4 separate regions of the Homo sapiens genome follow, and regions 2, 3 and 4 are each linked to region 1. The links come from fine-mapping of genetic effects on gene expression. A gene starts in region 1. Each other region holds a variant in brackets. All regions are shown on one strand. Distances are between the middles of the regions.

Region 1 (8,000 bases):
CCCCCAGCCCACAGCCCCCTGCCCCCGGGGCCATGTACTTGTGCCGGTGGATGATGGCATTGAAGAGGCGGCCGTCTCTCCAGCTGGAGGTGAAGTTGTCGCATCGCAGGCCCTGGTACCCCTCCACCATTCGCTGCGACCACAGCAGCAGCTTCTCCTTGGCCGTCATGTCCTCCGACTGCCCACTCACCTGGATATCTGAGATCTGCTCACAGCAGAGAGGAGGCCACAGCTCAGCCACAGCCACCAGGCCTGCTCTGTGCCCACAGCCACATGCACAGGGGCAGGGGTAGCTCAGCACCCAGGGGGAGTGCATGGGGCCACCAAACCAGCCAGGGCAGCACCGGGCTCCAGGGCCCTTCCCTGTTGGGAAGCTGCTGGGACTGGCCATGCCTCGGGGCCACAAGTCCAGCCACTCCAGCCGGTGGCAGCTGCCACCACGCAGCTCAGAACCCCCAACCCTCACTGCCACCACACAGCAGGTGCCCACTCCCCTAGCTGGGGAGGGCTAGGCTGCACCCTGCACCTCCCGGAGCTGGGATGGAGCAGAGTGGAAGGGCAGTGGGCATAAGAGGAACCCACAAGTGTACCACTAAACCTGGCCCAGAACCCCCAGGCCTGGAAAAGGCTGGGGGTCGAGCTCCATCGATGGTTGCAGGCTGGCAGGTGGGGCCTCTGGCAGCCTGGCTTTACACTCAGTGGCATGCTCAGGCCAGGTTCTGCCCACCCACCCCTAGCTGCCTGTCGTCCTGCCAGCCTGTGTGACTCAGCTGCCGTGCCAGCACCAGGCTCTGCCTGCTCAGCTCTCAGATTTGTGGTTTCCTGTGCAGCCAGGACAAGCAGCGGGTGAGTCAGCCTGTGCTGCGCAGAAGCCTCCCCAGGGCAGGCACCGGGGCCTGCATTCCTCCACAGGGAGGCTCTGGGCCCTGCCCAGCCAGGGCCAGAGGGCACGGATAGGTGGCCTCAGAGAGAGGCCTGTACCCTCAGGCCACAGATCCAGTCCAGGGTTGCGGCTGGCAGGAAGGCACCCAGGTGCCACCATACCTACGGCGCCAGTCACCTCCCAGGCCACGCCCTAGCCAGAAAGCGGATCAACCCGCCAGCCAAGGAGCCCAGGCTACCCTGGAAACTCCTGCAGGGGGTGGGGGTCCTGGGGGCAGCCGTTCTACCTGGAAGTGCAGAATGATTGTCCAGATGAGGCCAAGGGTCAGCTTGGGGTTGCCGTCAGCGATGTCATCATTCCTGATGTTCACCAGCTTCACCTGTGAGCGAGGGGCTCTCGGTCACGGCCCACAGGGCGGGGCTGGCTTGGTGAGGGGTCTGGGTGGGGCCCAGGGCCTGCCGGGCAGCCTTACCTGGCGGTGCCGGAGGTAGTCCAGGGCAATCTGGACATTCTGCAGCTTGTGGAAACGCATCCTCCCCTTCTCCCGGGGCTGTGGGGAGGCACAGTCAGCACCCACAGTGCAGCTGCAGCTCCCGGGCCCCACCCTCAGCATGCCCCAAAGCGCCGCAGCAACCGAGCCAAGGGTCTTCCCCAGGGGGCAGCAGCCCCTCATCCCAGGTTCACCCTCCCCCGCAGGGAAAGGGAGGCCACCGGCCCAGGGGCCAGGCCAGGCCCATCAGGGCTCGGGAAGTCCAGCGACCCAGGCTGAGGGAAGGAAGGAAGGGGTGGGAGGAGACAATAGCCAGGAAGCCTCGTGTGGAGGGCAGTGGCACTAAAGGGGGGGTCCTCCTGCCTGGCGGTGGCAGCCACAGCAGCCACCGGTGGGTCCCAGGCCAGCTCTGGGCAGCACGGTGGACGGGCAGCTTGACACCCAACCACCTACCCGCCCAAGAGCCAGGCAGGGGTTGGCCGACGGGCCACCAGCCCCCAGAAAGCCGGGCTCCACGGTCTTGGGGAGCTCCCGTGCCGCTGCAGCCGGCAGGCACAGCCACTCACCAGGCGTGAGCTCCTGCTTACGTCCCGCTCCCTCGGCTGCCCGGCCAGAGCAGGGCAAAGGGTAAAGGGCAGAGGTCAAGGTTCAGAGTCCAAGCAGCAGAGAAACCAAAGCAAAGCGGAGCATGAGGTTACTGTGTCCCGACGCGGAGGGCGGCAAGGCCCAGAGCAGCCGAGGTCCGAGGGTTGCGGCCACTCCCAGGCCAGGCCCTCGGCTGTGATGCCCAGCAGCCTGGGCGGGAGGTGCTGCCAGGGACGAGGCCAGCCTGCCCCCAGGGAGAAGGCAGGAGGGGTTGAGCTGGATTCCAAGTAGAGTGGGCGGCCGGAGAGGCCCCAAGGAGGGAAGGCAGGCAGAGGTCTCCAGGTGGGGCAGGCGGGGCCCGGAGGGGGCAGGGGCACACGTACCAGGCTGTCCCCCGAGAGGACCTCCAGCAGGGAGATGAGGTTGTGGCCATCGCGGAGGTCTTCATACAGGTCACTGATGTGCCTCTGGGCCTGTGGGGACAGCAGCGGCTGAGGTGGCCAGTCCCCCAGAGCCACCAATAGGCCCTGAGTGGCTGATCTACAGAGTGGGTGCTGGTCCCAGAGGGAAGGAGGCGGGGGCTGAGTCTCCCGGGAGCCCACGGAACACACCCTGCCCCACGGAGGCACCTACCTCTGCCCGCCAGTGCTGCAAGGAGAGACCAGGAAAGACCAGAAGGAAGAGGAGGAAGAGAGAGGCAGGAGCAGGCGTAGGGAAGAAAGAGGACAGAAAATAACAGGTTTCAGAGATGAAAGGTGAGCACACAGGCAGCATGGGGACAGCCTTGGGCGGCAGGGGCCACCCTCCCTCAGCGCCTCCCACAGCCTCAGCCCCTGTGACACGCACCAGCATGCGCCACCAACCTTGATGAGGTGCTTGTTGACCCACTTGGTGAAGGTTTTCTTCTGCACACGATCCCGCTCATCTGGGGGAGACAAGACCAGCTTACCTGGGGCCTGGGAGAAGCCCCGGGGGCCCTCAGGTGACCACCGTGCAGACACAGCAGCCTGGCTGGCCAGGTCCTGCCTGGGGAGCCCCAAAGCCTCCCTCAGATCACACACTGAGACCCAGGCGCCCTCACCCGCAGCCCAGCCACACAGCAGAGACCCAGGTGCCAGGGGCCCAGGCGCCACCAGGTGCAGCCACCCCACCCCGGACTCTTCCCCCGAGGAAATGGGAGGGTCCTGGGCGCACCCTGAGCCCAGGGCACACAAGTCCCGTCCTGCAGTCCCCCCCGGCCTCTACAGACTGAGACCCAAGCAGGGGTGTGGCAGAGCCAGGGCCCGGGCCCGCTGGGGTGTTGGAAGGGAAGCCGCGTGTGCTGCTGACAGGGCAGCGAACCTTCCCCAGAGCGCAGAGTTCCTCGCCCTTCCAGGCCCGACATCTGACGCTCGGAGGCCCCCGTCAGCCTCGCGGGCGCCTGTCGGCCCACTCCGTGTTGGGTGGGGATGGCTGGCCCCCGACCCCCATCTCCAAGACCAGCCCCCCAGCGGTGCCAAGGCTTTCCTGCCACAGGAAGTGGGCCTTCCTCCCGCAGGGGCCCGCCCTGCCTGGCGGGGGTGCCCGAGGGGAGCCCTGCTACCTTTCTTGCCCTCAGAGGCCCTGAGCACAGCCAGGTACAGGTTGTCCTCCGAGCTGGTTCTCTTTCGGCCCAGGCCCTCGGGCTGCGGCACGCGGAGCTGGTGCTGAGACATGCTGCCCCCACACCTTCGTCGCCCGGACCCTCGGCCTCAGGCACGGTGCTCTGGGCAGCCCCGTGTGGCACACAGGCAGCTGAAGGCTGGCGGCCCCACGAGACGCTCACTCGGCACAGGCTCAGCTCAGAGCCCCAGTCGGTGCGGCCACTCCCTGCCTGCTGTACTCCCCGGCGAGGCCGGCCCGCCCCCGAGGCCCCACCCTGCCCAGGCCGCCGCCAGGGAGGGGAGTGTCCCGGCGGGAAGGAGCAAGCAGCCCCCTCCCCCACAGACACGCCCTCGGCCCGCCAGAAACAGGAAACCGGGGTTTCCTCACCCACCCCGACCACTGCAGCCCCCTAGGGGGACCTGGGGACACGGGGAGCTGGCACTTCACTGCACACCAAATGGTGCCAGGACCGCAGAGGAACACAGGCCGTCCCCACAGCCACCCAGAAGGACCCCCCAACAGACTGAAGGGCTCCCCCGACGGGAGGGGCTCTGAGGCCACGCCTCTCTTTGGAGCTCCCTCCAGGCCTGGGCCAGGCCCTGCTTCAGCCTCTGCCCACCCACCCTGCCAGGGCGGACTCAAGAAGCCGCTGATACCTGGCGAGGGGAGGGGACCTGCTGCCTGTCAGCTCTTGCAGCCCCCCAATCACACCTCTTCACAGACCTGCATGAAGCGGGGAGCACACCCTGCCCCATGGTGCCTGCCCTGGCCCTGGGGCCAGTGGGGTCCCACCCCAGGCCTGGCCCCTCCCAAGCTGCCCACCTGGCACATCCTGGAGCAGTGCCCACCTGCGGAGCCCACCCTGCCCCAGGCAGACACCTCACGTCGGAGGCGCGTAGCTGAGGGCTGACTCACGGAGGCCGGGCCTCATGGGGGAATGGAGCATCGGGAAGCCCCAGGAGGGGCCTCGCCAGTGAGTCAGGGATGGGGAGGGGGCCCAAGCCTGTGACTCACAGAGGGGAAGCCACACCTGAGGCAGGACCTGGGCGACCCCAGGGGTGGGGGGTGCTGTTTGCAGCTGGGTGGGGCTCAAGGGAAGCAGTCTCATGCTGTAAAGGGCAAAGGGCAAAGGGCCTGCGCTGGCTGGGGCCTCCGGCTCCCTGGGGTCCGGGGCGGAGCTGCCTCTGGCCAGCTTCTGGGCCTGCCCAGCCCACCCGACCACCATAGGAAAGAATGCGCTGCCCCAACCACAAGAATGTTCCAGCCGCACATCAGGCAGATTCGGTCCAGCTGGGAGCTGCACTCGGCCTCAGTTCTGGGAAGAGCTCACCCCACCTCATTCCTACTGCCCCTGAGGCCGTGAGGGGGCACCAGAACCCTCACAATGGGGGGTGCCCAAACCCCTCAGAGGTGGGGAAGCCCCCACTCCACGCCAAGGGGCACAGCCAGCCCCTAGGGCTCTGCCACATCGTACACGCCGCCCAACGAAGACACCCCTTGGTCTCCATGCATGGTCTCTGAGCCTGGCATGAGATTCAGGGTGACCCTCTTGCTCTGCCTGTCCGGCCCAGCAGCCTCCAGAACCTCAGGAGTCACCAGAAGCCCCCAAATCAAAATCTGACCCCGCACTGGTCAGCACCTCCAGTCTTGTGCCCAAGGGCACCCCGGACCCCACACCTCTGCCGCCCCTCCCTGGGTCCAAAGCCTCTGGAAACACTGTCGCCTCTTCAGAAGCCCTGGGCCAGCAGCTACCCTGAGGCCAAGCCCCGCGCCTGCTGGGTATGGGCTCTGGGGGCCCGGCCGTGACCAGGTGGCTCCTGCCTGCAGGAACGGGGCTGCCACTCTGCTGAGGCACAGTGTGAGATCCCGGAACAGCCAGGGAGGTGGGCACAGGGAGTCCACGACAGCTGGAAACTGGGAGCCGGGGCCAAGGTCCAGGACCCACGTGGAGCCCACCCCAGCCAGGCCCCTGTTCCAGCCTTCTCCCTGCCACTAACAGGCCTCCAAAGATGCCGCCCTGGGCCGGGCCAGGGTCAGGAATGGGGCAGGGGCTCAGGGAAGGGAAGGGGCACGGTGGGGACTCCAGACACGGACTCGGGCAAGGCTGGGACCGGGTGAGGAGAAGGGCTGGGGCGGGGCAGGGCTGGGACCAGGTGGGCTGGGGGCTCGGTCAGGGGCCTCCACCTCCCAAGCCTGGCTCAAGCTCCCCTTCCCTACTTCCTGCCTCTGGGTGCCTCTTTGCTCTGAGCTCTTCCCTCCTCATCACCTCCCCTCCCTCCCAGCCCAGCCTGCCCCGCCCCATCCAATCCTATTCTGACCCTAAAACCAACAGACACACCCGCCCCACCCAGCCAGGCTACACCCACCCTCTACAGCTGCAGCTCAGCTGGCTCTCCCACCTGGGACGCACCCAGAACACCCCCAGCTCAGGTGCCTCTGCACACCTGCCTGACACCTGTGCTGTCCAGGGCTGCTGACCCTCGGCCGCCAGCCCAGGGTCCCTCACGACAGGCACTGCCGTGGCCCTCTGAGGAGTATCGCCCCCGTTTTACAGGTGTGGACCCTATGGCTGAGGTCCCGCAGCTAGTGGAGACGGTCCTAGGATGGAAACCCCAAGACTGGGAAGGGAATCCCACTGGCCCAGGACTGCAGCAAGTCCACAGAAGGCCTGGAGCCCCGCCTTCAGCACCTCCTCCCTCCCCCGTGTCCTGGAAACCCAGGCCAAAGCCCAGGCTGACGTGGAACAGCCGGGGGTGGGCCAGCCCCGCCCCCTCCAGCCCCGCCCCCTCCAGCCCCTTCTCTAGAGACAAACAAATGGGGGTAGGGGAACATCACCCCGCCTTCCTCCCCAGGTGTTTCCGGAGCTCGGGGGCAAGGCTGCACCGGGCCAAGGCGCCACCCCCATCCCAGCCCAGGCGGCGGTTCCCAGCAGAGACCCAGCCCCACTAGGTGAGAGCGATGGTGGCCCCTTCTGTGCCACCGGCCACGCCACTGCACCCACCTACGCAGCACAGCTGCTGGTAGAGGTAGCCCCTGCGGGCCGGCTCGCAGCCCCCGTCCAGCCAGCACGGCCGCTCCAGCAAGACCTCCCTCGGCGAGGCAAAGGCGCCCCCCGCCCCCGACATGCCGGCCACGGCCGGAGCCCTGGTTCGGCCCACGGACAGTGCGGGGAGCTGGACCGCGGCGGCGCCTCTGCTTCCAGCCCACGCTGCGAGGCTGCCGGCTTCGCTCTCCACCTCTTCCACCTCCCCCCCACAATCCGCCCACTGCGGGAGCGAGGCCCAGACCCAAAGAACCTGCCCCTGGCGCGCAGCCCCGCCCAGCGCAGCCAGGAAGCCGCGCCCCAACCCACGGGCCGGGCTGGGAGGCTGCCCTGGGACTGAAGCGGCATGGGAGGGGGCCTCCCAGCAGGATGTGCGGTGGGGACTGCAGGGCCCAGGGAGGAAGGCAGGGCATGGGGCCAGGTGGTGGGCAGACAACGCTGGAGGCAGAACCGAGGAGCTGAGCCGCGTCTGGCACCACCAGGGAGTAGAGGCATCCTGTGAGCCAGGACCGTGGCCGAAGGGGGCAATTGTGGGCTGAGGTGGGGAGGCAGGGACAGTGTCTGGTCCCCAGCCAAAAACATGGATGGGGAAGAAGCCCTCAGCCCAAGTCCCATCCTGGCAGCTGAGTCCCCGGCAGCTCCGGGCGTCCCCAGCGCCACGCCTAGAAGCCCCATCTTGACTCATCTCAAGTCCGGGGATCCAGCAGAGGAGCTGAGCCAGGCAGCGCCCTCACTGCAGGAGAGGTCTGGCCAGCCAGGTCCCCGATAGGCAGTCCCTCTGGCCAGAAGCCCATAATTGAGGCTGCCCAATCCCCAGGGCCCCGCCCCATCCTGTGCTGGGCACGGTTGCCACCTGGGACCACAGCCCAGGAGCTGGTGACTTTGAGCAGGGAGGGCAGGGCACAGCCTGGCTGCCCCCGCCCCCTGTGCGGCCCGAGGGCATGAGGGCACCTGCCTCACCTGCGTGTGGCTCCACCCCCTGCTGTGTGTGCAGGGAGCCACCTCCACCTCAGTGCTGGCCGGACAGGCACCTGCCCACTTGTCCCTGCCACGGCGGCTGCCACAGGCCTCCCTTCGTGTGGGGGACGCTCCTGCCCTGCCGGCCTCCGCTTCCACCCACCTGTCCCGCACAGGCTGCAGGCTGAGGGCCACTGCAGAGCCCGCCCCGCCCTGGGACTGCAGCAGGGTCAGGGTCTACACTGCAGGGTGGGGTGGAGGGGCAACACTGCTTTCACTGACATTCAGCTTGGAAACAGGAAGGGGAGGGCGCAGGGAATGAAGGGGCGGGAGGCAGGCGGCCCCTCTGCCCCGCCTCGAGTCCCTGGCAGCCACCAGCGGGGCTTACCTTGCTCGTCCTGCGCCCACCGACGTCCCCT
Region 2 (8,000 bases), 24 kb before region 1:
GGCGTCAGCAACACCGCAGATGCCTAAAGGGTGCATGGGTGATGGCCACCATCTTCCCACTTAATTTGCTGGTCAGGTCCCTACAAGAGCTGGGTAGACTGTGGTGGACGGCGGCTGAGCCACAGCGTCTCCCCACAGTGCCAACTCCAGCTGCTGTGCTGTCTGTGGTCTTTCCTGGAGCAGACTCACAGCCTCAGACGGTGTCCTGTGGCTCCTGGCTGGGCAGAGGGCTCTCCACTGCACCGGGAGGAGGTCAGGGGCAGTTCCCATTCACACGAGGTGGACAGCAGCGCACAGACATGCAGACACACAGACAACTGACCAAAGCGCAAACACGCAAGTCCGCTCACTGACAGCATCGCACCCACCAGGCCTGGCAAGCGGGAAGTGGCAGGCGTTCTGAGCGTCCTGCTAGGACACAGGCACTCCAGGGCAGGAGAGAGGCTGAGCCAAGATTCAGGGACTGGTCACGTCATGAAGGTTTTAGGAGTCCAGAGATCTGGGCATGTTAGGACGTCCTGTCCAAGGTCAAGAACGAGTTTTGAGCCTTGCATTTCCTAACACCAGGAAAGAAGCTGGCAGATGGCAGGCCTCTGGGTTCTGGACACAGCACGATGATGCCAGACACGGCACGATACCAGACACGGCAGGATGATGCCAGACCCAGCACGATGCCAGGCACGGCACGATACCAGACCCAGCACGATACCAGGCCCGGCACGATACCAGACACGGCAGGATGATGCCAGCCCCAGCACGATACCAGACCCGGCACGATACCACACACAGATCTTTTTATCAGTTGGCACAGAGGCTTCTCGTTTTGAGTGGGGCCCAGGAAAAGGAAGGGTAGCACAGCTGGTGAGGCTGTGGAACAAAGTCCTGCCACTCAGGCCCTGTGAGCTAACAGAGCTCTTGTACCAGGAGCACCTGCCGCAGGTGGGGAAGGATGCGTCAAGGGGTCTCCGGCAAGGCCCAAAAGAGCTGCAGCACCAGCCCTAAGTTTTGAAGCAAGGAGGTCCCGACTGCAACAGAGAACTGCGGACTGTTCAGAGAAGTTCCTGGGGATGGTGTGGCCACAGCTCCCACCAGGAGCCAGTGCCACAAGACCCACCCAGGCTAAGGTCAGCGGCACAGTGAGGATCCAGGGTAAGGGGCGGTGCACTGCCGGGCACCAGCCATGAGAGCCAGAGGGCTGCACGGGCAGGTGGCGCAGCTTCCAGCTTGCCCGCCAGTCAGGCCACAGCCTCAGAGGGTCCCTGTGACTGGGTGGGGGCCAAGCCCGGCCTGCTTCATGGCGGTTGGGTTCATGGTAGTCGGACCACTCCACTTGGGCTGGCCCTGGAGTCAGGGGTCGGGGCGATCCCTGGCCTCTCATGAGGAGAGGAGAGCAGCTCATGGTAAGGACACACGTGGACAGGGCTGGGGAAGGGCTCGGCTGGCCGGTCAGGGCCTGAGAAGGGCAACGCTGGAAGACGGACTGGGGAATGGAACTGCCGGGTGGACACCAGCGTGGGGACTTGTGGGTGTTCACCAGGGGCACCGGCTGCCGAGCGGGCACCCAGCCACCCACAAGCCAATGACGCGGCCAGTGACGCAGCGTCCGGTGCTCCCACACGGCTCCCGCCTGGAGCGATGGAGGACCAGACGAAGCCAGGCGCCCCATGACAAGCCCAGCTCCTGTCGGCAGCAGCACATCCCGTCCTCTGGCCATAAAGACCACCAGGGGCCCTGGACGCAAAACCAGCCAGAGACCAACCGGTCACTTGGAGGTAAACTCAGCCCTGGAGGCCCCTTCCCCTTGGAAAGACAACAGCTGGTATTCCAGGCACGGACCCACCTTTCCAGCCCACGATGCCTCCGTGTCTGCCCTGGGAGACGGGCTCCTGTGTAACGGCCCCCAGGGCCTCTGACTGCTTCCGGCAAGGGGGTGCAGAGGGAGCGGGAACACGGGCGCCGCAGAGCCTAGAGCGTCGGCGAGCTTCTCGGAAAGAGTTGGTGCCACCGTCCTGACACCAACCCTCTGGGACTGTGGTGGTCCCGTCCTCCAGGATGTGGTCTTCGGCCTAAATCAGTGGCCCCACAGAGGACCGCATGGGTCTGGGGACCAAGGGGTAGAGGCAGGAGTGGCCGCCCACTCACCAGCTCCCAGTGACCCACTGACAACCTGTGCTTCCTTTCCCTGCAACTCTTAAGCTGTGAGGGCTCAGAGGTCCTAAAACCCAGCCACCTGGGACAGAGTAAGGCACTGCCCCGCTCGATGGCTGTGGGTCACCCGGCCGGGGCCACTCCTGTTCCAGCGGACCAGCAGGCAGAGCACCCTCTACCGGGCCGGGGCAGGGAGGGTAAAGCCCAGCAAGAGCGAGAAGACTAGGACTTGGACCCCAGGGTGAACGCCTGGGTCCCACCAGCAGGAGAGGCGAAGGCCAGGCACAGTGGCTCACGCCTGTAATCCCAGAACTTTGGGAGGCCAAGGCAGGGAGGATCACTTGAGGCCAGGAGTTCGAGACCGGCCTGGCCAACACGGTGAAACCCCATCTCTACTAAAAATATGAAAATTAGCTGGGTGCACACCTGTAGTCCCAGCTACTCGGGAGGCTGAGGCAGTAGAATCATTTGAACATGGGAGGTGGAGACTGCAGTGAGCCGAGATCATGACACTGCACTCCAGCCTGGGTGACAAAGCAAGACTCTGCCTGAAAAAAAAAAAAAAAAAAAAAAGAGTATCGGCTGAGCCTGGACCAGTGGCTACTGCAGGCTGGGGTGGCCCCGCTTCCCTCCTCCCCTAAGTCTTCCCAGAAACTGCCACCAGTCGGAAGCCTGGAGAAGCCCATCCAGATGGAATCCCCGGAGTGTGATGGGCATGGGGCCGAGACATGGCAGACTGTGGTGGAGGCCCTCATACTAGGCCCACTGCCTGTGGCCCCTTCTCTGGAGGGCTGCCCGGCCAGCAGCAACCAACTGACCCGGGGCCATGTGGCACCCTCCCCGGAGGCCAAGGGGCCACAGCCAGTGACTGATATGGGAGCATACCACACCCCGCCTCAGATAAGGAAACGTGAGCCCCTTATAGTGCGAAGGGTGGGGCTGGGAGACTGGTCAGCACCTGACCAGCAGCAGGTCCCAGGGGGCCCGGCCTCAGTGTGGCCACCACCCTGCCCCACACTGAATCCCTCTGCCCAGGGTCTCTCAGCTGCCCTCCTGCGAGCACCTGGTCTCTGCTGCACACAGACGTACGTCCCTGACTGGCCATAGTGGCTGAGCTCAGAGCCTGGAGCCTGGGGCTGCAATGTCCACCCTGTCCCTGACACACACCTGACCCCAAGACACAAGGCCGGAGGCACGGGAAGGTTGGAATTGCTTTTATTGGGGGCGGATACCGCAAGGCCCCGCCCACGGTCAGGTTAGTGTTCTGCCCTTGCAGAGGCGCCAGCAGCCTGACACCTCCACCTGCCACCCGCCCGGGGTTAGTGGAACATGCAAAGCTC[A/G]GAGGGTGGAGGCAGGGGTGGTCGCTGCTGAGACCAGGGCTGGGTGCAACAGGAGGGTCAGCACAGAGCCTGGCTGGTGTCCCTGGGCCCAAAGGGGGCTGGGGCTCCATGGGAGAGAGACGGGCAGGCGGCACCCCAGTGTGGGGCTCCACAAGCTGGAGGGGCCCCTGGACCCACCAGGAGGACAGGTCTGCAGTTCCCAGCCATGCCGGCTGGAACGTCCGCCTCCCCACTGGGTCTGGGTCCTCGGGGCCTGGGGTTAGAGGCCGACATGGAAGGCACTTACTAGGGGAACAGAGGCTGGAGGCTGACGCCGGAGGCCAGGGGTCTCAGGAGTGAGTGTGGGGGGTGAGCTGGAAAGCACAGATCAGACAGCACTGTGGGGGCTGGGCCCGAGGGCCTCGTCTTCCCATGGGGAAGGGGCTTCTCTGGGTAGACTGGGAGAGAGGCTGACTGGGGCCCCCCGTCCCCAGCAAGGCCCACCGTGCAGGCCAGTGCTAGAAACACCAGGGCCCTCTACAGACAGGGTTGGGCCCAGCTGCCCTGTGCAGCTAGGACTGGCAGGCGGGCTACCCTGGGAAGACAGGAGGGTGGGCTGGGGCCCAGCTTGGGACCCTCCAAGGCACCTGGCTGTGTGAGTGGCAGGTAGAAGGGAGTGAGGAGACCCGAGGGGGTGAGGCGGCCAGCAGGGCTGGGCCAGCCCTGTCCCCCAAGATACAGGCTGTCTGGACAGCAGATATATATTAATATATTAGTCTGGTCTTTTTGGTTAAACTTTAGGCACCACTTGGGAGGAAGACACCTTTAAGCGTTGAAAACGGCCCCCGCGCCTCGGTGGGAGCCGGGCTGGGCCGCATGCAGAGCGGGGTGGGCGCAGGCAGCCTCAGGCCACGGCAGACTCAGGGCCCCCCAGGGAGGCCGAGGACCCCGAGGCGTAGCGGCGGCCGTAGCCCGAGGAGGAGTAGGAGGATGAAGAGAAGGTCATGGAGAAGCCGGAGCCGGTGGCGTCAAAGCTGCCGCGGCGGGAGCCGGCCCGGGAGCCGGTGCGCGAGCCGGTGCGGGAGCCAGCGGTAGAGCCGGAGCCGCTGACGCTGTAGGGGCTGTAGTAGCCCTTGGTGGACTGCGCGGCAGCCTCCAGCAGCCGCAGCCCCGTGCCCTCCTCCACCATGCTGCGGTCCAGCGCGTCCTTATAGGAGATCTTGAGCTTGGTCTTAGGGCAGGTGAGGTACTTGGAGTAGGCGCCCACGTCACGCAGCTTCTGTGCGGTGCGGGCGTCCACCGTGCCGCGCTGCAGGGCCTCGTCCAGGGGCACGCGGCCCGGCGTGTCGGGCTCGATCAAGCCGCCGGTCAGGTACTGCACCTCCAGGAAGCGCTGGCCGGCCTCGTAGTAGAGCCAGCCCTTCTTCAGGGCCTGGGCGGCCGACATCTTGGTCTTGGTGCGTGGGTCCTCGAAGCCGCAGAAGGCCTTCTGGGCCAGGTTGATGCGGTCCACCATGATCTTGTCCACCAGGCCCTTGTTGACGGCGTCGGTGACAGGGAAGCGCTCACCGGTGCTGGGGTCGATGATGCCCCCGGTGCAGGCCTGCGCCTCCAGCAGCCGCTGCCCCGTGATGTTATCCACCAGGTTCCGGTGCATGGCCTCGGTGATGGACACCTTCTCCAGCGTCTCCGTGTCCAGGATGCCAGCCACGGGGCCCGTCTCCTCAGTGGGGTCTGACCAGGAGGCCAGCTGGGTCCTGGAGACGGCGGGGCTGATGGGGTAGGAGGAGGAGGATCCCACCGAGGAGGAACGGGAGCGGAAACCACCGGCGTTGCCCGAGAGCATGTCGGCGAACTCGGTGATGGAGAGCGTGCCGGCGCGGTACTGGTCCAGTGCCGAGCGGTCGATGAGGTTCTTGGCGATGGCATCATCGATGTCGTACTGGCGCCCGGAGCGGCGGTCGATGATCATGGACTTGACCACGCCGTCCGAGGAGGAGATGGTGATCTCCTCCCACTCGCACTCCTGCTCGGACAGCTCCAGGTACGTCTGGTGGTCAATCAGGCCCTTGCGGTAGGCCTCGTACACTGACATCTCCTTGCCCGTCTCGGGGTCCACGATGACCACTCGGCGCTTGCGCACGGAGGACTTGGAGGACGTCTTCCGCTCCCGCTTCTTCTCCTTCAGCGGCAAGAGACACAGGCCCGTCTGGGGGTCAGTGATACAACGCTCCATCAGCTGCAGGTAGGTGAGGTTCTCCTCCGTGTTAGGGTCAAAGAAGCCCTTGGTGTCGTCCGAGGGGTCGGTCAGGATCTCGTTCATCTCCTCATCGAAGAGGCCGCGCTTGTAGGCCACCTCCACGGGCAGCCGGTGGCTCTCCTCAGGGTCGATGATGCCGCCCGTGGCGATCTGGGCCTCCAGCAGGCGGATGCCATGGTCCTTCAGGATCAGGCCCTTCTTCATGGCCTGGAAGAGGGAGATGAGCTTCCCAGAGTAGGGGTCCTTGTACCCAGTGACGGCGCGCTCGGCCGACAGCAGCTTGTCCTTGAACTCGGGGCCCACAATGCCCATACGCACAGCCTCCTCCACCGTCAGCTTCAGTCCCTTGATGGGGTCGATGACGTAACCGGTGGCCGCCTGCGCCTCCAGGAGCTCAAAGGCTGTGCCGGGGCGGATGATGCCCTTCTTCATGGCCTGGTACACCGAGAGCCGTTCCTTGGTGGCGTCCACGAAGACACCAGCGATGCAGCTGGTGCCTTCCAGGAACTTCTGCAAGTTCTTGGTGACCTCCTCGATGGAGGTCAGGCCCTCCCGCAGCTGCAGCGCCGTGGCCTCGTCCATGACCTGCGAGCGCACCAGCTCCTCCATGGTGATCTGCTTCCGCAGGCCACGGAAGGTCAGCTTGCGGGCGTCCGACAGTGGCAGGAGCAGCTGGCCGGTGCCGTCGTCACGACGGCACCGCCTGAGCAGCTGCGTGTAGCTGAGGCGCTCGTCGGTGGACGGGTCCACGTAGCTGCGCACCTCGCTGGGCTCTGACAGCTGGTCGTGCGTGTCCTTGTTGAGGTAGCCACGCTGGTAAGCCACCTCCAGGGGAAGGTGGAAGCCCAGGCGGGGGTCCACGATGCCGCCGGTGGCCAGCTGGGCATCCAGCAGCCGCAGGGCCTCCTCAGTAGGGATCAGCTCCTTCTTCATGGCCTGGAAGAGCGAGATGGTCTGCTCGGTGTAGGGGTCACGGTAGCCGGTGACCGCCCGCTCAGCCGAGAGCAGGCGGTCGTGCAGCTCGGGCCCCACGAGGCCCTTCCGCACAGCCTCATCCACAGTCAGCCGCTCCCCCTTCACCGGGTCCAGCAGGAAGCCTGTGGCTGCCTGTGCCTCCAGCAGCAGGCGGGCCACCTCGGCACTCAGCAGCCCTTTCTTGAGAGCCTGGTAGATGCTCAGTGTCTGCCTGGAACCGGGCAGGTAGACACCAGCCACGGAGCCCGTGCCATAGAGGTAGCACCAGGCGGACTCCGCCTCGAGAGCCTCACGGAGGCTCCTGGTGCCCTCCCGGAGCAGGTTGTAGGTCTCGAGAGAGATGATCCGAGCCTCGAACAGGTCCTCAGCCGTGAGGCGGCGGCGCACGTAGTCGTAGGAGGCCAGACCCTGCTGGCGGATGATCTCTGTCTTCTCAATGATCTCGATGATGATGATGATCATGCGTTCCTTGGTCACCCGGCCGGCCTGGAAGTCAGCCATCAGCTGGGCCCGCTGCTCCTCGGGGATCAGGTCCGACTGCATCACCTCCCACAGGGACATGGTGGAGCCGCCGTGGCTGCCGCCGCCGGGAATGTCGATCTGTGTCTCTTCAAATGCCCTTCTTGTCTCCTCCTCAGTGTACACCTGCGTGGTCTCCACCACCTCAGCCTTCTCCGCCCCTTTCAGTGGCAGAAGGCGCAAGCCCGTCTCGGGGTCCTCCACGCACCGCTCCAGCAGCTGCCTGTACGTGAGGTTCTCATGCGTGTTGGGGTCAAAGAAGCCCTTGGTGTCGTCGCTGGGGTCCGCCAGGACGCGGTTCATCTCCTCACTGAAGTAGCCGCGCTGGTAGGCCACGTCCACAGGCACGCGGTGGCTGTGCACGGGGTCGATGATGCCGCCCGTGGCGATCTGGGCCTCCAGCAGGCGGATGCCGTGCTGCCGGAGAACCAGGCCCTTCTGCATGGCCTGGAAGAGGGAGATGGTGCTGCCCGAGTAGGGGTCTCTGTAGCCGGTGACGGCCTTCTCGGCAGACAGCAGCTGCTCGTGAAGCTCGGGGCCCACCACGCCCGCCTTCACGGCCTCGTGGACATACAGGCGCTGGTTCCGCACGGGGTCCACCAGGAAGCCAGTGGCCGCCTGCGCCTCCAGCAGGAGCGCAGCCGTTGTGGCTCTCAGCAGGCCCCGGCGCATGGCCTCGTAGATGGACACCTTCTCCTTGGTGTCCTCCAGGTAGATGCCGGCGAGGCAGCCACTGCCCTGCAGCAGCGTCCGCACGGAGCCCAGCTCCGAAAGGTCCT
Region 3 (8,000 bases), 30 kb after region 1:
GGTCCCTCAGGCCAAGGCCCAGGGAACTCCTTCCCCAGGGAACTCGGGCCAGCATCCAGCTGAGGCTGTGACCTGCTGCGGCCTAGCCTCCATGTCACCGCTCTGTCCTGGAGAGGGTTCTCCCTCCCTGCCACCCTGCTGGACCCACCATAGCCTGGCACCAGCAGGGCCTCCTGAGCACTTCCCACATGCCCCCTGGCACCTCCAATCCGACGACACCCCAAGCAGTCCCGCTGAGGTCCCAACACCCCTCATCACCTGGTCCCAGCACCATCCAGGCCTCACCCTGCTCCCAACGTGGCCCTGCTTCCTCACGCCCCTTCCTCCTTCGCAGACCCAACAGGCCCCCATGGCTGCACAGCTGCCCACTGCTCTGCTTCCCGGCTGCCTCTTCTCATAGGCACCTAAGCTCTGGAGGACCCCAGGCTCAGAGCTCTGGCCCGAGGCCTGCCCTAGTGATGGCCTCCCAGCCTGGCCTCCCCACCTCAGCCCAGCATTTCCTGCACCTCAGTGTCTGCACACGCATACCTATCTCACAGGCATCTCTGATTTTATGCACCCAAGGCTAAGCGCTGGCTCTTCCGCCCTCTCTGCCGCAGGCACATCCTCTCCACCCCAGGCTGCTCTCTACCTCCACAGCCACCACGGGGGACTCCTCAGCCGCTCCTTGGGAGGCACCAGGCCAGGATCTTGCAGGGGTCCAGCCAGCTCCAAGTCCACCTATCCCTCCCACCCAACGCTTGTTTCAAGCCACACCTGCCACAGGACAGGGCGGGGCTCGGCTGGGGGGGTACAAAAGTGAAGCAACACATAGTCCCCGCGTCAGGAAGCTGGATTCTGCCACAGGACAGGGCAGGGCTCGGCTCGGGGGCACAGAAGTGAAGCAATACACAGCCCCTGCGTCAGGAAGCCGGATTGGTGGAAGGGGAGATGTTTACAATCATCCCTGTAACCCACAAGCCCACGGCCAGACCCTATGAGCGTGACACCAAGCATGACATCGAGCCTCCTTGAACATCTCGACCTCAGCCCCAAGCAAATTCCACAAAGATTAACGACAGAGATGTTTAAAAAAATGCAGCAGTGCTGGAAGCAACTCTCAGCAGATGTTTTTCTAAAAGAAGGCCATTTTAAGCATAGCATAAAATCCAGAAATCATAAAAGACTGGTGAGTGTTAAAAATTGATATGGCTAAAGAAACCACAGACAGAATTAGGCCAGGCGCGGTGGCTCACGCCTGTAATCCCAGCACTTTGGGAGGCCGAGGTGGGCAGATCACGAGGTCAGGAGATCGAGACTGTCCTGGCTAACACGGTGAAACCCCGTCTCTACTAAAAATACAAAAAATTAGCTGGGCATGGTGGCGGGCGCCTGTAGTCCCAGCTACTCGGGAGCCTGAGGCAGGAGAATGGCTTGAACCCGGGAGGCGGAGGTTGCAGTGAGCCGAGATCGCGCCACTGCATTCCAGCCTGGGCAACAGAGCGAGACTCCATCTCAAAAAAAAAAAAAAAAAAAAAAAAAAAGAAACAGACAGAATTAAACAAAAATAGATGCGTGGTGTGAGACCCATCCATGGTGTGCCCAGTGGGGACTCAGCAGGAACTTTCCAGGAGCTGAAAAGTTCTGTTCCGTGAGCTGGTGCTGCCCACAGGCAACTTCGAAGTTTACGCCGAATACAAGTGTCCCTCGGTATCAGCGGGAGATGGGTTCTGGACTCCCCATGGATACCAGAATCCACAGATGCTCAAGTCCCTGATGTAAAAAGGTGTAGTAGCCAGGCATGGCAGCAGCTCACACCTGTAATCCCAGTACTTTGGGAGGCCAAGGCAGGAGGATCCCTTGATTCCATTTCCATGTGAGCACAGGAGTTTAAGACCAGCCTGGCCAACAATGCTTGTGAATAGGCAGTTCACAAAAGAAAAGGTGCAAATAGTCAACAACTCTAGGAGATGTGCTCAGCTTAATTAATAATCAAAGAATTCAGGCCAGGCGCGGTGGCTCACACCTGTAACCCCAGCACTGAGGCTGAGGCAGGTGGCTTACTTGAGGTCAGGAGTTCAAGACCAGCCTGGCCAACATGGGGAAACCCTATCTCTACTAAAAATACAAAAATTAGCCAGGTGTGGTGGCGCACACATGTAATCCCAGCTACTCGGCGGACAGAGGCAGGAGAATTGCTTGAACCCAGGAGGCAGAGGTTGCAATGAGCTGAGATCATGCCACTGCACTCCAGCCTGGGTGACAGAGCGAGACAGAGCGAGACTTCGTCTCAAAAAAAAAAAAAGGAAGAAAAGAAAACATTGGTGTAAAGCTTCATGACTTGGATTAGACAATGGCTTCTTAAATATGGCACCAAAAGCACAAGCAACCAAGGAAAAAGATAGATAAACTGGAGTCATAATAATTAAAATTAAAATGTACGTGCTTCAAAGGACACCACCGGCCAGGTGAGGTGGCTCACGCTGTAATCCCAGCACTGTGGAGGCTGAGGCCAGGAGTTTGAGACCAGCCTGGCCAATATGGCGAAGCCCCATCTCTACTAAAAATACAAAAATTAGCCAGGTGTGGTGGCAGACGCCTGTAGTCCCAGCTACTCGGGAGCCTGAGGTACAAGAGTCACTTGAACCTGCTCCAGCCTGGGTGACAGAGCAAAACTCCATCTCAAAAAAAAAAAAAAAAAAGACACCAGCAAGCAAATAAAAAGGCAGACCACAGAAACAGAAAATGTTTGCAAATCATATTTCTGATAAAGGACTGGCATCTAGAATATATAAAGAACACTTACAACTCAAAAATACCAAAAGGTAAATTCTAAAATGGACAAAGGATTGAAATACACATTTCTCAAAAGATATAAAAAATGGCCAACAATCACACCAAAGTGTTCAACGTCATTAGCCATCAGGAAATGCAAATCAAACCACAATGAGATTCCACTCGACACCCACTAGGATTGGATGTCTGCAATCAAAGAGTCAGATAATAACAAGTGTTGGTGAGGATGTGAGGAAATTGGAAACCTCGCACCCGGCTGTTACTGGGCATGCAGAATGGCACGCCCGCTTTAGGAAGCAATCTGGCAGTTCTTCAAAATGGTTAAATATAGAATTACCACACAGCTGAGCAATTCCACTCCTAGGTATCTACCCAGCAGAAATAAAAAACATACGACCACACAAAAACGTGTATGCAAACGTCCATAGCAGCCTCACTCATAACAGCCAAAAGGTGGAAACAACCCACTATCCGTCAACTGATAAACGCATAAGCAAAAGTGGGCACTTCCACACCACGGAACCGACTCCAGCGGGGGGAGGGTGAGGTGCTGATGGCGCGGCGATGTGAGCAGCCCTGACAGCGTCCCGGCAAGTCGAAGAGGCCAGACCCAGGGCCAGTACAGGCCAATCCATAACCATTCCTGTCTGCCTGAGCCCCTCAGCCCCCCCATTCTCCCTGTCCCCCATCCAGGGCAGATTCCTCTGGGGCTGAGGCTACTGCAGCCTGTGGCAGGAGAGCTCTGGGCACCCTATGGGAGAGGCCTCCGTGCTGAGGGCTGTGGGCTGGTGACTTAGACAGTCGGCCCAGCTGCCAAGAGGTGTCCAGTCGCCCAGCCCCCCAAGCCTGGCCTGTGACAGCTCATAGAGGCTGGGCCGTCCTGCCACACCATGGGAGCCTGGAGAGAGACCTGGGGTGGGTGTGGCAGGGCGGGGACAGTTCTAGGAGAGAGTTGTGGCAATGCAGGTGAGTGGAGGTGAGGCGGTCAGTGAAGAAAGAAAGAGCGGCCCAGCAGCAGTCCAGCGTTGTGGGCAGGGGCCTGTCCTGGGGGTCAGGGCATGAGTGCAGGCCGGGGAGTGGGGAGTGGGGCCAGCCGGGGGCCTGGGCAGCTGGGGATAGAGACTTTAGGTTGTCAT[G/C]TTAGGGATGGGAGTGGGGCTTAGGGGTGCTGTGAGGTGGTCCTGGAGAGGGCAGCAGGGGTGAGAATGAGGCCGGGGTGAGTACCGTTGGTGAGTGGGTGGCGTTGGTGTGGGGCAGGGGCCAGGGGTGGGAGGCCTGCATTGGTCTGGGGGAAAAGCGGGCCTGGAGAGGGGCTGGGTGTGTTGGGTCTCCACAGGGCGTGTGCCCAGCCTGTGGCCTGCACTCTCTTCAGGACCCCTTGCCAGCCCTGGGCCTGCCCAGTGCCACTGTGCCTGGCCCCCTCCTCATGTGTCCCCTACTCTCCCCTGTCCTGGACTCTGAGCTTGGTTATCTGTGTCCCTGGCACTGGCCCCAGGCCCTCAGCCAGCACTGCAGGGTGTTTGCACGGGTGAGTGGGTGATGGCGTAGGGCGTCATCTGCAGTGGTTGGTGCTCAGCTGGCAGAGGGCAGGCTGGAGGTTATTTGGGGCTCACTGGAGAGGAATTTTGGTCGGTGTTTACTGTCAAAAGTAAAACGCTCCAAAAAAAAAAAAAATCAAGCAGGGTGGAAGTATACAAAGAAAAACGGGGAGAGTCACACCTCTGGGTTCAGGCTCCCGGCTGGGGCGATCGCTGTGCATGAGAGAGGGCGGGAGAGAGCACACGGATTTGGCCGCCCCTTTACAGGGAGCTCAGACTGAGATTTCCTCTGGAGCCACTGGCTTTTCATGTCAGTACCAATTAGGTTGACCTCATGCTGATTATTAGTATTTTTTAATAGCTTTATTGAGAGGTAATTCACATGCCACACCATTCACCCATTCAAAGCGTCCAATTCAGTGGTTTCAGTAGATTCGGAGTTGTGTAGCTGTCAATTCCAGGATATTTTCTCACCCAGCCCCTGGCAACACCGCTCTCTTTTCAGTTATGGACTGGCCGCCTCACCTCCACTCACCTGCATTGCCACAACTCTCTCCTAGAACTGTCCCCGCCCTGCCACACCCACCCCAGGTCTCTCTCCAGGCTCCCATGGTGCGGCAGAACGGCCCAGCCTCTATGAGCTGTCACAGGCCAGGCTTGGGGCGCTGGGCGACTGGACACCTCTTGGCAGCTGGGCCGACTGTCTAAGTCACCAGCCCACAGCCCTCAGCACGGAGGCCTCTCCCACAGGGTGCCCAGAGCTCTCCCGCCACAGGCTGCAGTAGCCTCAGCCCCAGAGGAATCTGCCCTGGATGGGGGACAGGGAGAATGGGGGGGCTGAGGGGCTCAGGCAGACAGGAAGTTGGCGATGTTCCAAGCGGAGCAGTGGCCGCCTGACTGTACAGGGAAGACCGGGGATTTCCAGGGGAGAGCCAGGGAATGACGTGTCCAGGGGAGGGTCTGAGACGTTGTGGGGTGGGGGGTGAAGGTCACCGGAGTGAGGGTCAGACAGGGAGTTGTCTGTGAGAGGGCACAGTGAGGTGGAACCGAGGCAATGCCACAGAGGGGAGGAGGCCAGGAGGCCTAAGCCAGAGCACCTCCTCAGTGCAGGGATCAGCTGGGCAGGGGGCACAGGCCTGGCCTCCCTGCCCTCCTCAGAACCACCAAATGCTGAGCTGGGCCCAGGACAGGGGCCCGCAGCTGCTTACCATGGAGGGATTTGGGGCTGCCTTGCCGTCACTGGCTGGCTGGCAAGGGGTGCCATGCCCTCCCACAGTCCCTCCACCCCAGGGACAGGAAGGGCCGGGGCTCCAGCCCTCTAGCAGGTCCAAGGGGCTCACAGAGGTCAGGCCTGGAAAGGTGTAGGGCACAGGGGCCACCTCTGACCTCCTGCAGGCCCTCCTCAGCCTTGGTCCGTGGCTCCCAGACACAGGTACCAGCCCAGCCCCTCCCGTCCCCTTGTCTCAAGCCAGGAGCTAAGGAGACTTGGGGTACCTGGTGTGCTCACGGAGCCTCAGCACCTGCCTTGCTGTTTAGCCACTCTCAGGCCAGTGCCACACACATGCGGGCAGCTGCACCATCACGTGACAACTCCACTTCAGGCAAGCCCCCCGGCCCCCCTGCCCCCTCACCAGCCTCCACCACCAAGCCCAGAAGGCAGACAATGGGCCAAGACTGCGAGTGTGCCCAACACCAATCCTGGCCTCCAGAGGAGCTGCGCTTGGGAGGGAGGACCCTGACAGAGGGTCCCAGCAACCTCCAGGGATCTGTCTGGCTCACCCCTGGATGAATCAGAAGTAGTTCCCACCCCAGGAGGTAGAGGAAAGACAGCCCTGGGGCCAGGAAAGCCTCAGCACAATGCCCAGAACAGGCTGGGGCACCCCAGGCAGCCCAGCAACCTGACCAGATGAAGAACTCCAGGAGGAAACGATCCTGCACAGTTCCCGCACTTTGAACAGAGTGGTCAGCTCAGAAACAGCTCTGTCCTGGGGCTTGCCAGGAGGGCTGGAGCCCAGGTGGGCGGCTGCTTCCCTGCCCTATACCCCAGCACCCCTCCGGGTGCTCCCTCTAAGGCAGGGCCGGCCATGTAGAGCATGAGCAACAGGCTGCCCGCTCCAGGCCTCCCCAAGGGTGCAGGAGTGTCTCCCCTGGCCCGAATGAACTAGTCACACAGGCAAAGCGGCTGGGCACAGCACTGTCAAAGAGAGCCACAGCAGTACATCCACCCTGCCCCAGAGCCGTCGCTGGAGGACGCCTGAAGGAGATGAGTTCGGGGCACCATGAAACCTACCCAGCTGGGCAAGGTTGTGGTGGAGAGCGGCACCACGGGGCCCCAGCAGGACCTCTCTCCCTGAGCTGCCCTTGGGGGCAGAGCCAGCAAAACCAGCCACGTGGAGCTGGAGTCTGCTCTGATCGGCTCTGCCTGGGGGCCCCCACCGCGACCCTCCCCAGCAGCTCAGTCCCTTGCTCCTAAGCCTCTGCAGGCCGGCAGCCAATGCTGTGTCCACAACCGCCTGGAGCCGGGCGACCCAGGCTGAGCCAGGCAGCTGGGCTGCAAGAATGGCCGGTGGGACCAGGACCTGGGAGGGTCCAGGGGCTCCCCGTGGGCGTGGACTAGGGCAAGGGGGTCTGCCGAGGCATCAAGCAGGTGGGCAGGCCACTCTGATGCTCCCCTAGAGAGGAAGGAGGGGCCACCCTGACCCCTAGCCCACAGCTGTCCCCTAGTGAACAGAGAAGGGGTGTGGGGGGGGTGCCCTGCCAAGGAAGGGTGGCAGCCCAGGCCCTCGCCAGTTTAGGGAGGTGAGGAGAGGCGGCAACTATGTGACCCATTGCCAGGCGGCGGAGCTGCCCCTGTTCCATGCAGACGCGCCCCAGAGGTGGGGCAGGGGATGGCTCAGCCTTGACCCATGTGTCTGCTGGCCACAGACACCGGATCCTGGCTCAGACAGCCGACCCCGACAAGCCCTGAGCGCCCCCACCCGCCCGCGGCCCACCCCACCCACCCGAGCCGCGCGATGCCCTATTAAGGGCATGGCCTCGGGGGCTCAGCGGAGCGAGTCCTCCCCTTCCCTAGGCACTGGCAGCCGTTGGGGGCGATCCAGGCGGACGAGGCCGGCGGAGTGGCCGCGCTCGGGCCGGCGATCGGGACCGCCACCGTGGACGACAAGGTGCTCGGCGGCTGGGCTGTCAGGAGCGGCCCGACAGGCAGCGGGACGGGGGGCCGTACCTTTGTACTTCTCGCGCACCTCCTCGTAGGCCTGGATGAAGTCCTGCTCGTCGGGCAGCGGGCCGGCCATGCCGGCGGGCGCGGGGCGCGGGGTGCAGCGGAGCCTCCAGCACCCGGCGGCCACTCTGTCCCCGCGGCCGCGCGCGCCGCTTAAAGAGGCCGCCCCCGCCCCGCCCCCGCCCCGCCCCCGCACCCAGGATGCCCCACGGGCGGGGCGGGGCCGGGGCCGCCGCGGCCGGGCAGAGGGAGCCGCGTCTGGGCCCCTCCCGGCGGGCCGGTTCCGCGGGCTCCGAGTCCCGCACGCACGCCCTTTCCCGTTCTCGCCCGGGTCGCGGCCGCCGACACCGCGGTCGCCCGGGGGTCCTCGGGTGGCCCCCGCCCAGGGGCGGCCGCGACCTGTCTGTTCCCCGCCGGGCCGGCGACCTGCCTCCGAGACGCTCCCCTGCCCGCCCCCCACCTTGCTT
Region 4 (8,000 bases), 510 kb before region 1:
GGAGCTGCAGGCCTCTCCCCCCCCTGCTCCCCGCGGGCGGCGGTCCCGGCGGGGGCGGGGGGGCGCCGGCGCGGGGCGGCGGCGCCGAGGGGCGCAGGGAAAAGTTTCACGTGGTCAACTCCGGGGCGGCGCGCTAGGGGCACCGCTGGCCAGGTGTCTCGGGCGACCCCGGGCCCGCGTCGCCGCCTCCTCCCCGCGGCCGCCGCCTCGGGCTGCTCCGGGACCGCTCCCGCGCCCCACCCGCGCCGCCGGCCGGCCCCGCCTCCCACGGCTAAACGCGAAGCCGCGCGCGCCCCTTTATAGAGCCGGGTGCCTGGGCCCGCCTCCCCGGGAGGGGCGCGCGCCCCCGGGCCAATCGGAGCCCCAGCCCCGCCGCCCTCATTTGCTTATCCCCATGGCAACTCAGAGCCCAGCTGTCAATCTCCTGCGGGAAACAGCTGTGGGAAGAGGTAGGGACGGGCCGCCGGCTAGAGGAGAGGGCAGGGCCCTCTGGTGGCCATCACGGGGCACTGCACGGGCAGAGGGCGCGCCGCCTCAGGGGACAACTGCCGTCTCCAGGGGCCTCAGCTCCCACACCCGGCGGCCGGAGAGTCCGGGGAAGCAGACGGGGACCGCGCCCGGGGACCCCCTCGGGGCCTCGTCCGCCTCGGGCCACGCGGCGGGACGCCCCCTCGGCCCCCTGGGTTTGCGGCCGGGCCTGGGGGCCGGGGGCAGCTCCGCTAGCGGCGGCGGCGGCGGCAGCGGGACCTCCGGGCCTCTGGACACGGGTGACACCGCGCGGCCCGGCAGAGCGCGGCGCGCTGAGCCGGTTATTTTTAGCCCGCGGCTCAGACGCGTTCAGGAATTTGGTCAACAAAGTTGCCGGCACCTCCGGGCACCGGGAAGCACGGGGCGGGCGGAGGGGGACACACGCGTGCGGGGCGGCGCGAGGGGCCGGGGACGGAGGGCCGGCTTGTGGGGGGCCGCGGAGAGCGCAGGACTGTGGGGGTCGCGGGACAACGCGGGTGGGTGCGAGCGGCGGGGGCGGGGCCCACGGGCTGGCAGCCCCTCAGGGCGTTAGGAATCCCCGCCCAAGCGGCCACCACTGCCCACTTTCGCCCCCCGCAGGGCTGGAGGCGCCTTGCTGGGCCTGGAGTGGGACGGGGGGTAACTGAGACGGGAAGGCGGGGATTTCCACCTGGCGGCCGTGCACCTGCTGGGAGGAGACGGCTCCGGTTCACGGGGCAAAGGAGGTGACGATGGGCGGTGGGCCTGTGACCCCAGGTCCCCGACACCAGCGAGCCGGGTGATGGGAGGGTTGCGCCAGGAGTTACAAGGCCGGTGACCCGAAGTGGGCCTATTGTTTCTTCTCGAAATTCTCTCCATTGCTGTTCTATGACTTCAGCAATTTAAAAAAAAAAAAAAAAAGTCTAAAATGTAACCACCTGTGTAGAGAAAAAAAGCCTGGAAGGAGTTGCGCAGAGGCCACAGGGAGGCCTGGTCACGGCGCCGCAGATTTAGTACCAGGCTCTCACCTCCTTCCCTCTACAAAGATCTATTGTTTTGTAACAAGAAGACTGTCATGAAGTGAGGACTGAACATCTGCTTCCTAAGGTGTCTCGGGGTGTCCCTGGCCCTTCCCTGGGCCCTCCCACTCCTCTGGGCAGAGCTGGGACTGCTGATTTGGGAAGACCAGGCCTTCCTCCCCGCAAGGGAGGGCCAAGGACAGCATGAGGACCCACCTGCAGGGACCCCTCTCCCCCGATCCTGTCCCAGAGGGGGCTCTGAGCTCCCCACCCTTCTACAGATGAAGAAATGAAGTGGGCATGCAGCAGAGCCAAGTCCCCACACTGGGTACCTGGACTTGAGACCACACGAGTGGTCAGCCAGCCAGGGGTGTGGGGTTTCCTTTATGGCACCCCGTGTTGAGAGGGAGGCCCGGGAAGGGAGGATGCCGCCGCGCAGTGGAGCTGGTGGTAGTCCAGGTTGTCTGCACCTGCAGCCCCAGGAGAGGCCTTGGGGCTACAGGGCCCTCCCACGGCCCCTCCAAGGGTCTAGCAGCATTTCTGGGTACCACACCCTGGAGGCCCTGGGGCACACTGGAAAGGGGGTTGAGGAGGAAAGAGAGAGTGTTTGCACCGGGCTGTGTCCCCACTGTCCCCCCCTCCCGCCCATCGCACTGTGGCTCCTGCCAGGCCAAGGAGACCAGGAGAGGGTGTTTGGTCACCAGCCCAGGAGGACTCCAGCACACCCGTGGGAATGAAGGAGACGCCTGACCCCAGGCTGTTGCAGTGGGAACCTTCCCCGGGGCCACAGCTGTGACCTCAGGCTGAGGGACGCTGACCCCACAGCCATGCTTGGACTCAGTGGCACCCCCATCCCGCCACCACCCACAGGAAGCCTAAGTGCCTCATCTTGCTCTGAGAGGTGGGAGAAGGTGGTGGAGGCTGGGGTGGCCTCAAAGATTGACCCCAACCCATCCGCCCCAAGCCTGCCAAGCCCTCCTTGAGGCTTGGTGCTGTCACCACCAAGCCAGGATGGCTCCCTAGAATTCGCCTGTGCTCCGCTGTTCCCTGGGCTCCCAGAAGCGCTTTCCCTTCCCGCCAGCCTCCCAACCCAAGGGCTTCTCACACCCTCCAAACTTTCAGCATTTGGTCCTCACAGAATTCTGCAGGGGCAGTCTGTGTGGCTGGGTAACTCAATGCACCCAACAGGCTTCTCTTGAGCACCTAGAGTACGTCAGCCAGCCTGCCTAGGGGGCACATCCCATCAGGGAGGTGGCCAGGGTCCCTTGTTGAGAAGCCCCCTGGAGCTTGATGGCACAAGTATTATTTCATCCATGGGCTCTGTAAGGGGGAGATGTGTCCTGGGAATAGGGGCACAGCTTGCCTCTGGTCCTGACAGCTGGGAGGACTTGGGGGTTGGGGTAACGGGACAGCTGATGGATGGTGCCACTGGGCAGGGTCTTCACACCCAGGCCTGGCAGATGGTGAGAGCTGTCGGCCAAAACAGCTGCTTGTGACACCTCCACAGGGCTGCTCCCTGCAGCTGGTTGGGCTTCCTCACAGCATGGCTGCTGGTTCCCAGTGTGTGCATCCGAGGAAGGTGGAGGGGTGCATGTGCCTCAGAACACTGCACCATGCTGGTGGTCCTCGTGTGTAGAGGTCGGCCACCCCCCTGGGCAGGGGTACGGACACTGCCTGTGTAGGTCATGTGAGGAAGGGGCCTGTGGGCTGAGATGCACTGTTGTAGTGTTTTTGGAAAATACAGTCTGCCGAGTGGGCCTCAGAGAACAGAAAATCAGCCATAAAAATAGTAAGTAAAATGAGGCCGGACACAGTGGCTCATGCCTGTAATCCCAGCACTTTGGGAGGCCGAGGTGGGCAGATCACAAGGTCAGGATTTTGAGACCAGCCTGGCCAACCTGGCAAGAGCCCGTCTCTACTTAAAAAATACAAAAATTAGCCGGGCGTGGTGGTGCACACCTGTGGTCCCAGCTACTTGGGAGGCTGAGGCAGGAGAATCGCTTGAACCCGGGAGGCGGAGGTTGCAGTGAGCCGAGATCACGCCAGTGCACTTCAGCCTGGCCAACAGAGTGATTCTGTCTCAAATAATAATAATGAGTAAAATGATAGTGGATTTGCCTTCTATTGCTGTCTCACCAATTACCACACGTTTAGTAACTTAACACACATTTATGGTCTTGTGGCTTCTGTGAGCCAGGTGTCCAGGCAGGGCTTAGCAGGAGCCCCCGTCCAGGGTGCAGTCTAGGAGGTGGCCGGGCTACAGTTTCAACGTGGGACGAGAAGGGCTGTGCCACCAGGCATCGTCAGGCTGTTGGCAGAATTATTTCCTTAAATCTGTACAACTGAGGACCGGCTTCTTGCTGGCTGGAGGCTGGAGGCCACCCTGAGCTCCTCACCAGGTGCAGCCCCAGCACAGGCCCTGACGCCTCGGGCCAGCAGGGAGAGGCTCTCAGCGGGGCGTAAGGTGCCGTGATCACAGCTGCGGCATCTGGCCACCCTCCAGGAGTCTGTCGGAGGAAAGGGGTCACCCAAGGGTGGGAACGCTGGGCAGGGGGGTGCGTCATGAGGCTACCTCAGGGCCTGTCCCCCACACTCGTTTGTGAGAAGGCGGAAGCTTGGCTAGGTGGGGAGTTCTGGGTTGGTGGGGTTGGGGGGCCTCACAGACACCTGAGCAGATGGAGGGGCAAGCCCTTCAGGCCGGGGAGCAGGGAGCCCAGAGCCACTGCCTGGGAGGGGCCTGGAAGGGCCCAGGGTGGCTGGGTCAAGATCAGAGCCCATGGGGGCTGGTGTAGGGCCCAGGAAGTCATCGTGGGCCCCCAGAGGGCTCTGGGTGGAGGGAAACCTGGTACGAGGAGGGACAGGGAGGTTGGGGTGCTCACCAGCTGAACCCCACAGCTCCCTCTGCTGTCCACCATGGGACCCCACGCAGTCTGCTGTCTGC[T/C]GGGGCCCTGAGCTCATGCATTTTACTGCAGGGAGGGGCCTGAGGGGACCCTCCTGGCACGGCTCCTCCACCCCTGCCAGAGCACAGCTGCGCAGGAGGGCTGAGCTAACCCTGCCAGGCCATGCGTGGACCTCCTGAACCTCACCCTGCTGCCCCAAGAGTAAGTGCTCGGAACTGCGTAGAGCCTCGCGTGGGGTCTGGAGTGTCATTTTTGGGGCATGTATTTAGGTGGGAGAACCCCCACACCCCCAGTGCCCGCGTTTGCTGTGCGGAGCTGATCACAGGAGACAGAACCTTCTCCGTCCCGCAGACAGAGGCTCTGCATCTTCTGGGCTAGGGGGCTGCTGGGGCTGCCTCCACCCCCACCCTGCTCCTGCTGCCCGGGCGCCCCTCCTCCACTCAGGGGCTCATTTGCATTTAAAAACGACAACCAAAAAACAAGCCCAGGGCCTCCTGAGAGTCCCTCCTCAGCCTGTCGCTGCTCTGCCCAGGGCCTCCTGAGAGTCCCTCCTCAGCCTGTCGCTGCTCCGCCCCTTCCTTGTGCCCCTACTCAAGCACGGATGGTGCGCCTGCTGTATGCCAGGCGCCAGTCAGGGCACTCGCTCAGCCACTGCACGCCCAAGCTCCCTGCCCTCCCGGAGCTCCCGTGCTGCTGGGCGCTAAGTGAGGCGGGGTCAACGCCCTCAGCCCAGAGGCAGGATGGGCACAGGCCTAGCCCAGGAAGGTGCTGGCGCTCCCGGCGGACCCCCAGACACTCTCCCTTCGGTCACCTCCCAGCCCCCAGGGGCATCCAGGCCAGCATCCGACTGCCCAGCCGGCACCCCTCCAGGCACACAGGGCACAGAACCACACTCTGAAGTCACTGCTGCACCCCTGCTCGCCCATCCACCTCCCGCAGTGGCCCTGGACTCTGCCCACGGCTCCCACCTCTGCGGCCATCACATCTCCCTTATAAGAGACAACAGCGCTAAGACCCATCTGCTTGGCGCTGGGGGGGTGCATCACCTGCCTGGGACCCGGCCGTGCCCCGCCAGGGCTCTGAGGACCCCCCAGGGTGCTGTGTGCTTCCGCTTCAGGGTTTCCATCCGGCTGCCCCAGCACACACCACTCTGCTGCACGCACAGGCTTGGGTGCAGGGTTACGCCCTCCTCTCCTCAGGAAGCCTTCTCCTTCCCTGTTCCGACCACCCCAGCAGGGGACATTCCACCAGGCTGTCCTCAGCTGGGGCCATGGTCAATACAGGGGCAGGGACTCTGCTAGTCCCAGCCTCCCAGGTCCCTTGGCCAGGTGCCCTGGCAGTCACTGGTCTGCTGCCAGCTGCCCCTTGGCATGAGGGGCCTCGTGTGACCAAATGGGCACACTCCATGCAGGGGAAACGCAAGGACTTGAGACCAAGCAGAGCCCAGGCTGCACAAGGTCCCCAGGTGGGGGATTGGGACACCATGGTGGCCCCCTGAAGGCAGTGGCCAGCCTTTTCTGAGTCTTCCTGCTGGCCACTCCTGGGGGGGGCTGCATTTGGGGACAGTGGACCTGGCCCTGAACTGCCATCACACCCCCTTGCCCAAGAGCAGTGCCCTGGGCCTCCGAGTGGCTGTGCCGTGTGTCAGATGGCAGCGCTCACGGTCCCAGACAGGCGCTGGGTGGATGGGGAGCCTATTCCCCAGCCCCCACGGACGTTTCACGTTTCAGGGGCTATGTGCCAGCCGCAGGGTGGCCAAAGGAAGTGGCACCCATGGGTGGGTCCAGCTGCGCACCGGGCCTGCGGCAGACGCTTCCCGGTGGCACAAAGTGAAGTTAGAGGATCTGGCCGCCTCATGCCCAGCCGGTGCCCACCCTCAAATCTGGGGTCCCGAACAAGGACACAAGCCCCTGTGAACACTTGGGTCTGGGTGAGCTGAGCCAGTGTTGGAGGGGACAGAAGCCAGCTGGGCACACCCCACCCACAGCTCTGGCTTCCAGAATCCGCCATCCCACCCGATCCGGCTGGAATCCCAGCAGGGCCAAGGCCACAGGCTGGGTCCCAGGGCCCCAGGGTAGAGGCCACAGCGACGAGCACTGTGGAGAGAACCGGAAACTGCTGCCGTGTCACCCAGCACTCGCTCTGGTGGAACCGTCGCACGAGCCTCACGCCTCGTCCCCTCTGATGCCAACGTCAGGACACCCCACTTCAGGGTGGAGGCCGCGACCTCAAGGGGGCGGAGCATTCTCCCCGCCCGAGTGTGGACCAGGCCAAGGGGCCCCGCGGGGTGTGGGGTGGGCAGTGGCAGTGCCACCCACCCAGAGCCCAGGCAGGCAGAGGGCACAAGGCTCGTGCATCTGACTCCAGGCTGTGCCGTGGGGCCCCTGAAGGTGTTGCTGGCCTGCCTCGCCCAGGGGCCACCCCCCATTTCTTTGGAGGTGAGGAGAGGAGCCTTGCCCCTCCAGGCCTTGCCTCTCCCAATCCAGGGTCTGTGGCACAACCTCAGCCAGGCCTCCTGGTCAGGCCCCTCCAGCACGGGCACCCGTGCAGGGCAGGGGAACCGGGAGCTGGCCGAGCTGCCCCACCCACCATGGCTCTAGCCTGTTGCATCCGGGTCCCCAGAGTGCCCCCTAGGCCTTCCCCACCCCAGATGGTGCTGCTCAGGTCCAGGGAGAAGCGCCTTCTGACTTCTGAACCATCGTGGGAGGTAGGAAAGGGGCCCCATACTCCTGCCCAGAGGGGCGGTGCTTTCCGCCTGGCGGTGGCATGGCAACAGTCAGGACAAGCCAACCAGTTACGGATAGAACCTTTATTGCTGAACATAAAACACCTGCCTGGGAGGCCTGGCCAGTGGCCTCTTCACTGGGCCGAAAACCTGGGTGGGGAGGGCTGGGGGCTGCAGGGCCACTGTTGCCAATGGCAGTCGGGGACAGGCCTGGAGGCCAGCCCTGCCTGGCACCCTGGAAGGTGGTGGGGTGGGGACAGGGGCCTGGCTTGGGGGAGGAAGACCAGGCCCTGCGCACACGCTGGTCATGGAAGGTTGAGGGCCAGGCAGGCAGAGCAGTGTCCCTGTGGCCCCCAGGTGAGGCTTGGTGGCGGGCGGCCCTCCTGTGGGGTAGAGTGGTGGACAGAGCCTCTTTCCTCTCCAAGGATGAGGGTCTGAGGTAGGTGCAGGCCGGTCCCTGGGGTCCTCACAGACGTGGTTTGATGTGCAGAGGCTTCCCTATGCAAAGAGGGCAAAAGTTAGGTGCCCGGAAACCCCTGGAAGAACCTCCCCAGCCTGCAAAGCTCCTGATCGGGCTCAGGATCGGGGGGCTCTGTCAGCCCAAGCACACACAGCAAGGTCTGCAGAGATACCCTCCTGAGTTCGAGGGAGAAGAGCACAGACAGGCCACAGGCTTCAGCTTCTGCCCCCTGCTGCCAACAGGTCCTGGTGAGCCTCTGTGGCTGTCTAGCCATGGTGCAGGCTCAGTCTATGAGGTCAACTGAGGCTTCTGCCTACAGTCCAGGGGTCCTCCTGGGCGGGCGGCAGTCCCGGCCACAAGGTCTGCAGGGTGGGCCATCAGTACTGGTGCACACAGCACCAGACTGCCCT

Direction of the effects. Positions count from the first base shown, and alleles are read on the strand shown. Sizes are in standard deviations (SD) of each study's normalised expression. Not every link is listed here.
With allele A in place of G in region 2, the expression in cerebellar hemisphere of the gene that starts at base 3,788 in region 1 is higher (moderate effect, 0.51 SD a copy in GTEx).

The links.
Region 2: its variant is fine-mapped to the expression of PLEC in cerebellar hemisphere (GTEx, PIP 0.91).
Region 3: its variant is fine-mapped to the expression of PLEC in whole blood (TOPMed, PIP above 0.99).
Region 4: its variant is fine-mapped to the expression of PLEC in adrenal gland (GTEx, PIP above 0.99).

What each region holds. Positions count from the first base shown.
Region 1 is chr8:143,935,810-143,943,809 of GRCh38, forward strand. It overlaps PLEC (plectin), which reads right to left and starts at 3,788. Exons shown (of 32, transcript NM_201384.3): 1 at 3,541-3,788; 2 at 2,822-2,883; 3 at 2,342-2,431; 4 at 1,356-1,433; 5 at 1,170-1,262; 6 at 39-205. The coding sequence starts at 3,652. RefSeq lists silencers at 3,405-3,504, 3,785-4,014, 6,262-6,351, 6,572-7,031 and enhancers at 3,525-3,764, 4,175-4,234, 4,412-4,706, 7,252-7,501.
Region 2 is chr8:143,911,806-143,919,805 of GRCh38, forward strand. PLEC (plectin) reads right to left here. Exons shown (of 32, transcript NM_201384.3): 32 at 3,348-8,000. The coding sequence ends at 4,372. Among named protein-coding and RNA genes, the nearest start is that of PLEC, 24 kb to the right of the region's middle. RefSeq lists a silencer at 4,307-4,502. The variant A/G (reference allele first, on the strand shown) is at 3,489.
Region 3 is chr8:143,965,867-143,973,866 of GRCh38, forward strand. It overlaps a transcript of PLEC not described here. Among named protein-coding and RNA genes, the nearest start is that of PARP10, 17 kb to the right of the region's middle. RefSeq lists enhancers at 1-484, 485-1,261, 5,987-6,836, 6,837-7,684 and silencers at 7,418-7,877, 7,888-8,000. The variant G/C (reference allele first, on the strand shown) is at 3,912.
Region 4 is chr8:143,430,460-143,438,459 of GRCh38, forward strand. It overlaps MAFA (MAF bZIP transcription factor A), which reads right to left and starts at 273. Exons shown (of 1, transcript NM_201589.4): 1 at 1-273. ZC3H3 (zinc finger CCCH-type containing 3) reads right to left here. Exons shown (of 12, transcript NM_015117.3): 12 at 7,200-7,628. The coding sequence ends at 7,597. RefSeq lists silencers at 190-629, 5,332-5,506 and enhancers at 5,308-6,093, 6,094-6,877. The variant T/C (reference allele first, on the strand shown) is at 4,447.